Linked DNA regions of Homo sapiens: region 1 is linked to region 2. Evidence: fine-mapped expression QTL. A gene starts in region 2. The other region holds a variant in brackets. All regions are shown on one strand. Distances are between the middles of the regions.

Region 1 (5,000 bases), 640 kb after region 2:
GTAAGTGGTGACAACAATTAGAACATAGGTCTACTGACTCATGAACATCTGCTAAGTTCACACCTCCAAGTTCCCATCTTCTTCTCCAGTTACAGAAGTTAATGTTGGAGAGGAGAGCCTGGAATTCGAGGCAAGGTTGGAGATCCTGAGATGGGAATGAGCAAGGCCAGGTCTAGCCCAAGAGCCTGAGGCTCTAGACAGCTTATGAAGACAGAGTTTTGACCCCAGAGAACATGGCAAGAAACCCCAATGCCACAGCTGACTCACTGACTTATGCCAAGAGTAGAAGGAACTGGAGGTCCTTCTATTTCATTTCTATTGCAGATTTGCATAAATCATGGATATTGGGCTGAACATTCATTAGTTGTGATAAATGTGTCATTCTAATGTTATGTCTTAATGGGAAAAACTGGCTTATGGATCTATTGACATTCTGTGTACAATATCTACAACTTTTCTGTAAATCTAAAACTATTCTAAAGTGAAATCTTATTTCAACAAACAAGTAAGAGTTTACCAGACCCAGAAGAGGAGAAAGGGCATTCCAGGCAGAGAAAAACTAGATACAAATATCAGGAGGGAATGTGGTGTGCCTGAGAAAGAAGGAGGGATTTTGGGGATTTTAGTGTACTGTAACTACATAAACTAAAGTGAGGTTGAGAGTCAGGATTGGCTCTGGATGAGGAAGGCTTTTCTTTTAGGCCAAGCTGAAAAGTCTTAGGATTTATTCTGTAAGAAAAAGGAATTCATTAGAATATTTTAATTAATATAGTTCATATTTGAGTTTATTTGTTGTAAGGGTACCCACTTGCCTGTTGAAGGATGTGCTATAAGAGAGGCTGAGAGCAGCGAAACCAATGAGAAAGCTGTTGCAAAGGTCTAGGGGGACTGAGGTGGTGCATCCTGGAGCCAAGCAGTGAGCCAGAAGCAGAGAATGATGTTCAGGGCTTCATCCCAACTGTTTCTTCCTGCCTCCATCCTCCATTCTAATTTCTGATTATAATCCCAGTAGAAAGACAGGTAAAGCCTTGTTGATCAAGATGCACAGAGCTCCATTCCAAACACTCATCCAAGCCAAGACAGTAGAGAATTAAGATGCCCCTTCACCGTACCAGGAAGGTTTGGCAGCAGATGTTACGAATCTGGGTCCTGGTGCAGGATAAGAGTATTGAGTGCCTGGAATGGTCACATCATCATTAGGACAAGATGTCTTCTGTTATGACTCTGTGAGCCATTGGGATGGTCAAGAAGACCTCTATAACTCCACCTACACCCAGGAGAAGTAGCAGGACACACATCAGGGCTAAGCAGCTCCAGCACCTGGGCTAAGCAGTTATGGGAGTGCAGATGCAGGCACCCCAAATAAATATCCACTCCTGCCCCAGTGAGTCCATAGTAGAACATCCAAAGAATAGAGGCAATCAACCCCTTGACCCCATTTGTCTGAATTTGTCCTCTTCCCTCTGACAAGCATTTTAATCCAGCTGTAGGAACCAATTCTGTATCTTAATGCAATTTCTTCCTTTCCTTTCCTTTTTCCTTTTTCCTTTCCCTTCCCTTCCCTTCTCTCTCTCTCTTTCTTTCTTTCTCTTTCTTTCTCCCTCCCTCCCTACCTCCCTTTCTTTATCCCTTCCTCCCTCCCTTTCTTCCTCCCTCCCTCCCTCCCTTCCTTCCTTCCTTCTTCTTCTTTTTTTTTTTTTTGTCAGGGTCTCACTCTGTTGCCCAGGCTGGAGTGCAGTGGCACAATTGTGGCTCCCTGCAGTCTTGACCTCCTGGTCTCAATTGATCCTCCTACCTCAGCCTCCCAAATAGCTGGGACTACAGGAGTATGCCACCACACTGGCTAATTTATTTTTATTTTTTATAGAGGCAGTATTTCACCACATTGCCCAGGCTGGTTTTGAACTCCTGGACTCAAGCGATCCACCCACCTTGGCCTCCCGAAATGCTGGGATTGCAGGCATAAGCCACAGCTCTCAGCCTATTTTTTAAGGTCCAATGGAGAAATAGCCATGATTTTTGCTTTTTTTTTTTTTAACTGTATCATTACCCAAAGTGTGGTATTTTGGTATCTTCGAGGTCTTTAAGCAGAATTTTGGGTAGATCTTCACTTGTTCTTTATCTCAATGCCCCCAAATTAATTAGTGGTGGTGGCGGTGGGTGGTTCTTTGGGGTACATGGCCATGTTTTTTACTAATTTATTTATTCATCACACCAAGGCACCCTATTATTCAGGATGGAGTGGGTCTTGGTGGGTATCATGTCCAAGGTGACAACAGGAAATTCCAGGTTTCTTTAAAACTGACTCTAGAACTCCATCTCTTATTCTGATGGTTTTACATCTCAGAGTTGTTGTCTCTTCCAGGAGGAATGACTCCTCAGGTTCTATGGCCTTATAGTCAGGGCT[T/C]AGTGTGCAGACCCTGCTGCAGATGTCAGGACCATGGGAAATGCTGACAGAGTAGAAGCATTCTTTACTTTAGGGCCCCCAGTAGCACTTTTCCACTGGAGTTCTTCTTCTCTTCAGGTTAACTAGGGGGTCTTATGGATTTTCCCTGACAACAGTATATACTGCCTGTGGCAGTTTGACCCTTTAGCCCCCTGCTATTTAAATTGTGGTCCATGGATTAGCAGCAGCAGCAGCAGCATCACCTGGGAGCTTGTTAGACATGAATAATCTCAGGCCCCAGAATCAGAAAGTGCATACAAAATCCCTGGGTGATTTGTGTGGATATCATAGTTTGAGCATCATGGCTTTAATCTACAGCAGTGGTTCACAATTCTGGCTGTGCATTAGAATCACCTGGGGAGCTAAAATATCCATCTCTAGTCCACTACAGACCAATTAAATAAGAGGCTCTGGGGGTAAGGCCCAACTTTCAGTACACTTCATTATAAAGCCCCCTTAAAAGATACTAATATGCAGCCAAGTTGGAGGCCCAGTGACCTAGAAGAGCAGGGGTTCTCGACATTGGCTGCAGTATCAGGAGCACTCAGGAGGCATTAACACTTCCTATGCTCAGGCCCTGAGATCCTGATTTAGTTGACTTGAGATGGGGCTGGGTATCTGCATTTTGTTATGTCTTCCCCATTAATAGTCGAGAATCGTTTCCCAGACAAAAGTTTTGTCGTTGTATAGACCCTGCAAGGATGCAGGGAGGGGAAGCAGTCTCATGAACAACTGTGTCTCCTCATTGTTTCTGAGCCAAGGTAGGTTCTCCTTGACCACCTTAGGGTGACTATCAGAGATGCCTCTGGCTATTGGATATACTCTGCAGGCTTAAGAGAATGTAGCAGATTCAGAGCACATTTACTCTGCCATTAGCCTCTACCTGCCTGTCAAGGAAAATGAGGGAGCTGGCACCACAGTGAAAACAGGCAGGAAGCTCTTGACCCTGCTTGCCATAGGCACCGGGGTGCAAGACAAGCTGTACACTTGAGTGTTTGCTACTTGCTTTACTGCTGAGCTTCATCCTACCCATGGAGGGAGCAATGGCTGAACTCAAGGGCCTTGTGGCCTGGGCAAGTCAAAGGAGTAATTAAAGAAAGAGGGTATTTTGCAGGCATCACAGTGACATGGCCTCTGTGGGTGAACAGAATAAAACTGGACATAAACATTTGTTCTAGAGACAAGTTCTCACCAGTTGGTTTCATTTTAGGGCTGTGCTGAGCTCTATAGAGATCCAGGCGAGCTGAAGGAGGACATGTAACTCTGTCTACCATATATCTATTCTCTTTAGGGTTTTAAAATGGCTCTGGGTCTCTGGGAACTCCAGGGGACTACTGTTCACCTACCTGCCTAATTCAGGATCCCAGTGTAGGAGCCGAGGTCCTATGGTGTGCACGGGTGCCAGTTCCATCCCTCACAATCTTTATTTTTCCTTCACAGTTGGCGACATGGGACTCAGAGAAGGGCTTGAATGGCAGCTTGCAAGAGAGGCCCATGGGCAGCCGCCTCCAAGGATTGACTCTTAAAGTGGTGACTGTCTTGGTAGGATCATGGGGACATTCTGGGAGCGAGCTACACCATCCAGGCTGTTGAATCAGAGGCTGCTTTCTGTTTAATGCTGGGTTTGGGGAGAAGAGAATCTTGAGGAGTATTGTGAGCTTTCATAAGGCCTTTCATTCAAATAATTGTATGAATAATGAAAGGAAGAGTGAGATTGAAGTTTCTGCCCCAGGACCTCTGTGCCTTCCAAAGGAAGTCCCTGAGCTGCTCTAGAAAAGGACTTCTCATTCACAGCTTCCTCTGAGGACCAGAGGGGGCCAAGCTGCTCCATTTGTTCTTGGATGTAAAATGGATCTTGACCCACTACTGGTCCTTAGGAGAGTTGTTCTGGTAGCCAGAACCCCAAGATAGATGCTGGAGGAGGACATTCTCTTAGCACCCAACACCAGTGATGGGCTCATGTGACAGTGACACAAGTTCAGAATGAAGACCATTCGGTAGTTGCAACTTTTCTGCATGGATGTCCTGGAATCATAGACTTTTGCATTTGTAAGAGACTTTAAAAGCATCTTCCTTTCAATTGCTTTTTTCACATTTTTATAAAAACTGCAGGAGACATTATAGACTTGCCTCTTATTGGCTGAGTCACACGTGCCCAAACGTCCCCTCTCTCCCAGCAGACACTAGCATTCCCTTGGCTTAGAAACCTTTGGCAACAGTATTTCTGCATTCTCTGTTTGCACACCACAGATAAGCTTTACACCCTATTTCCCAACACAACTAAATTAATGAGCTATACTCCCTGGAGCTGTTTGCCAAAGGCCCCTTGTTCAGTTTCACACAAGAAGGAAGGGGAATGGTAGGGAGTGCCAAGACATTTTTCAGATGACCACCTCGCTCACATGTGGCATAGCACAACATGTGCAGGTGTGAGCATGGCATGGCTTTGAACTAGGAACTCTGGGTTTGAATTCTGTCCTACCCTTTGGCTTCTGGTCTGGCCTTGGTCAGTTAATCCATATCCATATCCACTTTCTAGTATAGCCTGTAGATA
Region 2 (5,506 bases):
CAGGAGCTGAGCAAGTGCCTACAGTCACCACGCTGCCTACAGTGTCCAGGGGATTCTAGCCTGGATAGGAAAACTGGCTTGGCTGAGTGGACTGTCCCAGGGTGAGGATCTGGGAATGAGCATATGGGGATGGCAGACTACCACACGCCCTGGAAGCTGGAGAGGAAGGAGGCACCCAGGACAGAAGGTGAGGTTGCCCCAGGTCAACAACTTCCAGATGAGATCCACCTTGAGTCATGATCCTCAGATGCCAAGCCACAGGAACCTCATCACCCACCTCATCATCCAAACTGGAACTTGATGGAAATCATTCCACAACTATGTGTTGGTGGGTTGTCTTCTTAATACTTGGAAGGAGGTCTTAATACTTATCCCACTGAAATCATGCTACCTACACCTAGCAAAACATACATCAAAGAAAAACTTCTAACTGGGTATATCACATGCCCACTGTACTAACACACTGGAGAACCCCCAACAACAGGAGGCCCGGGGAGAGTCCCTGACCCACAGGGACTTCAGGTCAAGACCACACCCACCATCCTTTCAAGGTGGAGACAGTCCCCGTAGGAACCAAACTGATGTATAATAAAACTCATCATTTATTTCTCTTCTCCCTACAGCATTTCAGCCAGTGAATGGTAGAATTTTGCAGGAATAAGAATTAGAGGTGTAGAGGGTTTTGAGATGCGGGGTGGGTCAGGTTTCACTACTCAAGGACCCTAAGACAGGTTTTTGGAAGAAGTGTGTGTGTGTGTGTGTGTGTGTGTGTGTGTGTGTGTAGGACCACATTCAGCCACTCCCATGGGCAAGTATGACATATGACCACTCCTCTCTTCTTGCCCCCTGGCCTCCTTAACCTAGAAGTCACCTTGCTGGCTCATGGGATTCCTTGATACTTCTGCAATCCAGCTTCTCCGCTCCAACAGGCTGTCCCTGCCCAGCTGAGCTGGCCCACCCAGGGTTCCCTCACAGTGCTATGGGCCTCCACTGGCCCCCTCTGCACAGCCCATCCTCTCCAATCTTTCTTTCCAAAGTGAAATCTACCAATGCTTACTCTTTGGCTCTGGCCACATGAGAGACAGACAGACATACAGACACACACTTCTTTCTTTTTGCCTTGGCTCACCACTATTCAATGCCTGGAAGCCTTATTTTCTCCCTTGGGAACCTCCACTCAGTCTTTACAACTGTCATCTCCTCCAGGAAGTCATCCCTGCTCTTCTTCCCAGGCTGGTTCAGAGCCCAGGCATCTGAGCATACACAGCTCATTCATAGCCCCCCCCAACATTTAAAAGATGACTTGGTTGGGTGTCTGCCTCGCCCACTGCGCTGGGAGCTCTGGGCAAGGGCTGTGGTGGGAGCCTCTCCCCCTGGTGCGTGGCGGGAGTCCTGGGGCCCCTCCGCGGACAACAGGGCCCGGGGACGTTCCCAGGCTTGCTGGAGGAGCAGCTTTTGAACGAGGCTCTGCCAGGTCCCAGACCCCAGGAAGCTCAGCTGTCTCCTCGAAATCTTGGGGGTGCCACATGGAGCCCAGTCCCTTTCAGGCACGAGCCCACAACAGCTTAACGCTCTCTTTGGTGGTGGCCGGCCCGAGGCAGGCACCGGAGGCGGAGGGAGCCCTGTTCCGCTGTGGCCGCGAGGAGCGGGCTCTTCGCCCGGGCTCGCACATGAAAGCTCCGTGCAGGGTCGGAGTCTGAGCCCGCCGGCCGCTTGGAAGGCTCCTCACGTCCAGGCGCCGCGGTCACGGCTGCGCTGGTTTCCGGCCATGAATTGGGCTTCAGAGTCCGAGCCTCTTGCCCGACTCCCGGCTGAGCGCGCTGCCCATGGAGCGGGGGATGGGCGCCCGCCGAGGTCCGCGCGGCCAGCCAGGGTTCGAGCCCACGGCCCGGGCTCTACTCTGAGATGCTTGCGGCGGCCGGCCCCCTCTGGCTCCCCAGCTGTCCTGGGGCCTGGCCCGGCGCCCCGCCCCGGTCTCTCTTCTTGCTCCCCAGGTCCCACTCCACGAGGAACGGTCTGTTTCGGCCGGGGACATGACCCGAGACGCGCGGCTGCTGAGGTCGCCAGGGCGCTTCGGGAGCCCCTCGAGGGCAGTTAGCGGCCGGCCCTCCTCCATTCTCCCGCCCCTGGCGAACCGGAGAAGGAGGCCCGAACCGTCAGAGCTCGGCGCGCCGCAGCCCAGGCCGGTCCCCGCCGCTGTGCCGGTCTCCGAGCGTCCCCCGAGCCGGGAGCGTGGAGCACCCGGCGCCCCCTCCGAGCCGCGAGCGGGCGAGAGCCGCGCGGCGAGGCTGAGGCTCCGCAGTCACGTGGTAGAGAGGCGGGCGGAGGGGAGGGAGGCGGGCAGGGAGGGGAGGGGGAGCGGAGCTGAGGGGGAGGGGGAGGGGAGGGGGCGTCCTCCGCAGTTCGCTCCTCGCCGGGGCTCAGACACACAGCCAGCCCAGAGCCGCCACGCCGGCCCGGCCGCCGCCGCCACCGCCTCAGCCTCCCCCGAAGCCGCTCTAGCCGCGGGAAGCGCCGCTGCCACAGCCGCGGGCCGCCCCCGCCGCGCCGGCCTGGGCTCAAGCTGCCAGCACCGCCGCAGCCGCCACCGGAGCCGGAGCGGGAGCCCGACCGCGCTGGGCTGGGCTGGGCTGGGCTGGGGCGGGCGCAGGGCGCAGGGGCGGGCGCGCGGGGGAAGACGCACGGGCGGGCTCGGCTCTCCCGGGGAGCGGCCCGGGACTGCACCGGGACCAGCGCCTCCCCGCTTCGCGCTGCCCTCGGCCTCGCCCCGGGCCCGGGTGGATGAGCCGCGCGCCCGGGGGACATGGAAGCGCTGACGCTGTGGCTTCTCCCCTGGATATGCCAGTGCGTGTCGGTGCGGGCCGACTCCATCATCCACATCGGTAAGCGCGGCTGGAGGCCGGGCCGAGGCTGGGCGGGGGCCCCAACGGGGCAGGGGGTGCGCGGCGTCCAAACTTGGCGTTTCCCTGGGCCGAGGGGCTCGGCGGGCGGTGCTCCCCCGAAGGGCCGCGCCGCGCCGCCCGGCGGAGGAGCTGTGCACCGGCCGCGCCGCGCTCCCGCTGGCTGCTTGCCGCTCCCCGGGGCTCCGATCTCCGCGCGGGGCCCCGCGGCCTCTACCGACACTTAGGGCCGACGCTTCGGGGAACACCGGGATGGACGCGCGTCGAGACCCGCGCCCTTAGCGGGGCCGTCGGCGGGTCGGGAGGGCCCTTCTGCGCAGCTCAGAGCAGCGGGGGGCAGGGGGAGGTACAGCGGGGGGCTCGCCAAGTTGGCAGGGCAAGATCAAAGAGGCCGGACCGGAACCGTGTGTGAATGTGTGTGGGTGCGTGTTGTCAGCGTGTGTCGCTGTGTGCGCCTGGCACGGTGTCGGTGTTACTGTGAGAGGGTGTTGGGGTGTGTGGGGCCATCTGAGCGTGTGTTGGTGCGTGCACGACTGTCTGTCAGCCTGTTAGAGTGGACACAGTGTCTGCCTGCTTCTCCGGTGTGTGTCTGTGTAGCCCTTGGTGTATGTGTGAGTGCGTGTGTATCTGGTTGTGGCGACTGCATCCCCATCCTGGACAGTCCTAGAGTTTTGCGTGGTCCAAGTCTTGGGGGCCCAGACGGTCTGGGTGGTGGGAGCCGAGGGAAGAAGCGTGGGCAGCGGGGGGTAGGGGGATGCTGAGCGGGAAGAGATGGATAGAGAGAGAGAACCGGGAGAGAAGATGAAAGCGCAGAGGAGGAGGGGGCGCGCCGAGGGGGAGTGGGCGCGCCGAGGGGGAGTGGGTGGGAGTTGGGAGCAACACGGGAGGAATCTCGGGAAGTTGGGCCGAGTTGGGGGGCTGACAGCGGTCGCTTTGGGGGAGTCCCTCCGCAGTCGTCTTTCCGGAAGTTGGGAAAGACCAGCGAGCACAGGGAAACTGGGGGTTGGGAGGTGTTGAAGGCGAGGAGGACGGGACAAGGCGGGAGGGTGGGTGGTGGAGTGGGGTGGTGAGGACTAGGCCTGGGCTCGGAGAGCTACGATTCCTCCTCAGGGGCCCGTGACCAAACCTGCTTCCCGCCCTGGAGGGGTGCGGGTCTCGCGGTCAGCATTGCGGCGCCGGCTCCGGGTGTAGTGAGGAATCCGGGCCTCCCTCCTCCTACCCAGCCCCCAGCTCGAGGGATCACTGGGCCTAGCTCCGGGACCTCAGGGACCCTCGAGGCTTGGTGAGGCGGGATGTGGGTGGCTGACTCCAGAGCTGTCCAGGTTGCAGGACTAGGCTCGGGCTGGTCGCACTGATCTCGGCTGGAAGCGCAGGGTCCGTGGAAGCTGTGCTAGGCGCACAAAGCGCCAGCCGGAGGGCGCCCTGGAGGAGCTGTCCGCGGTTCTAGAAAGCCCTTCAAGAGCAGCTCCTTCTGGGACCCCCAGCTCCGCTAGATCTGAACGTGGAGGCGCCTAGGACACAAGTCCCCTTCCCCCACTCCCCTCGACAGACGTACAGGAAATGGGAGTGGGGAAGGATGGAGAGTAGGAGGCTGAGCTCAGGGCGCCAGGCCGGGCAGCGTCACAGTCATCCAAGCTGCAGGCCATCCGAAGCCCCTGCCTAAGGAAGACCCCTCTGCGCAGGAAAGCCAACTGTAGACCTGCTTCGCTCAGCTCCACTCAGCAGGGGACGTGCATGGAGAAGGACCCATCATTCTGTCCTGGGATTTGGGTGGGGGACACCACCCTCCCGGGGAACTTCCTGGCTCCTGGGATGGGATTTATGGAACCATGTCAAGGCATTTGGGCGCTGCCTGGGGCCACCCCAGCTTGGCTTAGTCCCTTGTGTGGAGCATGGCTAGGACATGTGGTGCCTTGGTTGTGAGACACGTGTGTGACCTGGTGGCAGCCTGTGGGATGTGCATGTGTAACTCATGTCAACTGTGTGCACGTGTGCGCTGAGGGCTGGTGGGGGGAGGGGAACATATTCCTGTGCAGGTGGAGATCGGAGAGCCTTAATCTACCCCGCCAAGCTGAAATCCCAGTTCAGACTTCCCACCACCCGGCAATCATCGGTCTGCGAGTGCCTTGACCCTCGGGCCAAGGGAAGCGGGGAGAGGGTTCTTGTCCAGGTCCGGTCTTGATCCCTTCTCTCCTCCAGGTGCCATCTTCGAGGAGAACGCGGCCAAGGACGACAGGGTGTTCCAGTTGGCGGTATCCGACCTGAGCCTCAACGATGACATCCTGCAGAGCGAGAAGATCACCTACTCCATCAAGGTCATCGAGGCCAACAACCCATTCCAGGCTGTGCAGGAAGGTGAGTGACCGCTGTGCCCAGGGCCCACTGGGACACGGCCTGCGAGGCGTCGCAGCAGTGGGCACCGGAGGGGTTGGGACGAGCTGGGCTGCGCAGGGCACCCTCTGTTCCTCGGCAGCCGCGGTGCCATGCGCGGTGGCGCGCCTTCCCCGGCCCACCTAGGCAGCGGCGCCGGGACTGCTCTGCGCTGCGGGCCGGCACGGAGAGCCTGCGAGCGCGGGGAGCTGGTGTTCTTGCGGGTTGCGTGGCGC

Direction of the effects. Alleles are on the strand shown, and positions count from the first base shown. SD is a standard deviation of normalised expression in the study named.
With allele C in place of T in region 1, the expression in testis of the gene that starts at base 2,401 in region 2 is lower (moderate effect, 0.55 SD a copy in GTEx).

Evidence for each region. PIP is the estimated chance that this variant, and not a neighbour inherited with it, causes the effect.
Region 1: its variant is fine-mapped to the expression of GRID1 in testis (GTEx, PIP above 0.99).

What each region holds. Positions count from the first base shown.
Region 1 is chr10:85,728,501-85,733,500 of GRCh38, reverse strand. It overlaps GRID1 (glutamate ionotropic receptor delta type subunit 1), which reads left to right. Exons shown (of 16, transcript NM_017551.3): 9 at 3,887-3,988. Among named protein-coding and RNA genes, the nearest start is that of GRID1-AS2, 87 kb to the right of the region's middle. The variant T/C (reference allele first, on the strand shown) is at 2,408.
Region 2 is chr10:86,363,690-86,369,195 of GRCh38, reverse strand. GRID1 (glutamate ionotropic receptor delta type subunit 1) reads left to right here and starts at 2,401. Exons shown (of 16, transcript NM_017551.3): 1 at 2,401-2,882; 2 at 5,100-5,255. The coding sequence starts at 2,804. RefSeq lists silencers at 1,703-1,912, 2,023-2,412, 2,433-2,482, 2,713-2,912, 2,943-3,092 and an enhancer at 5,293-5,506.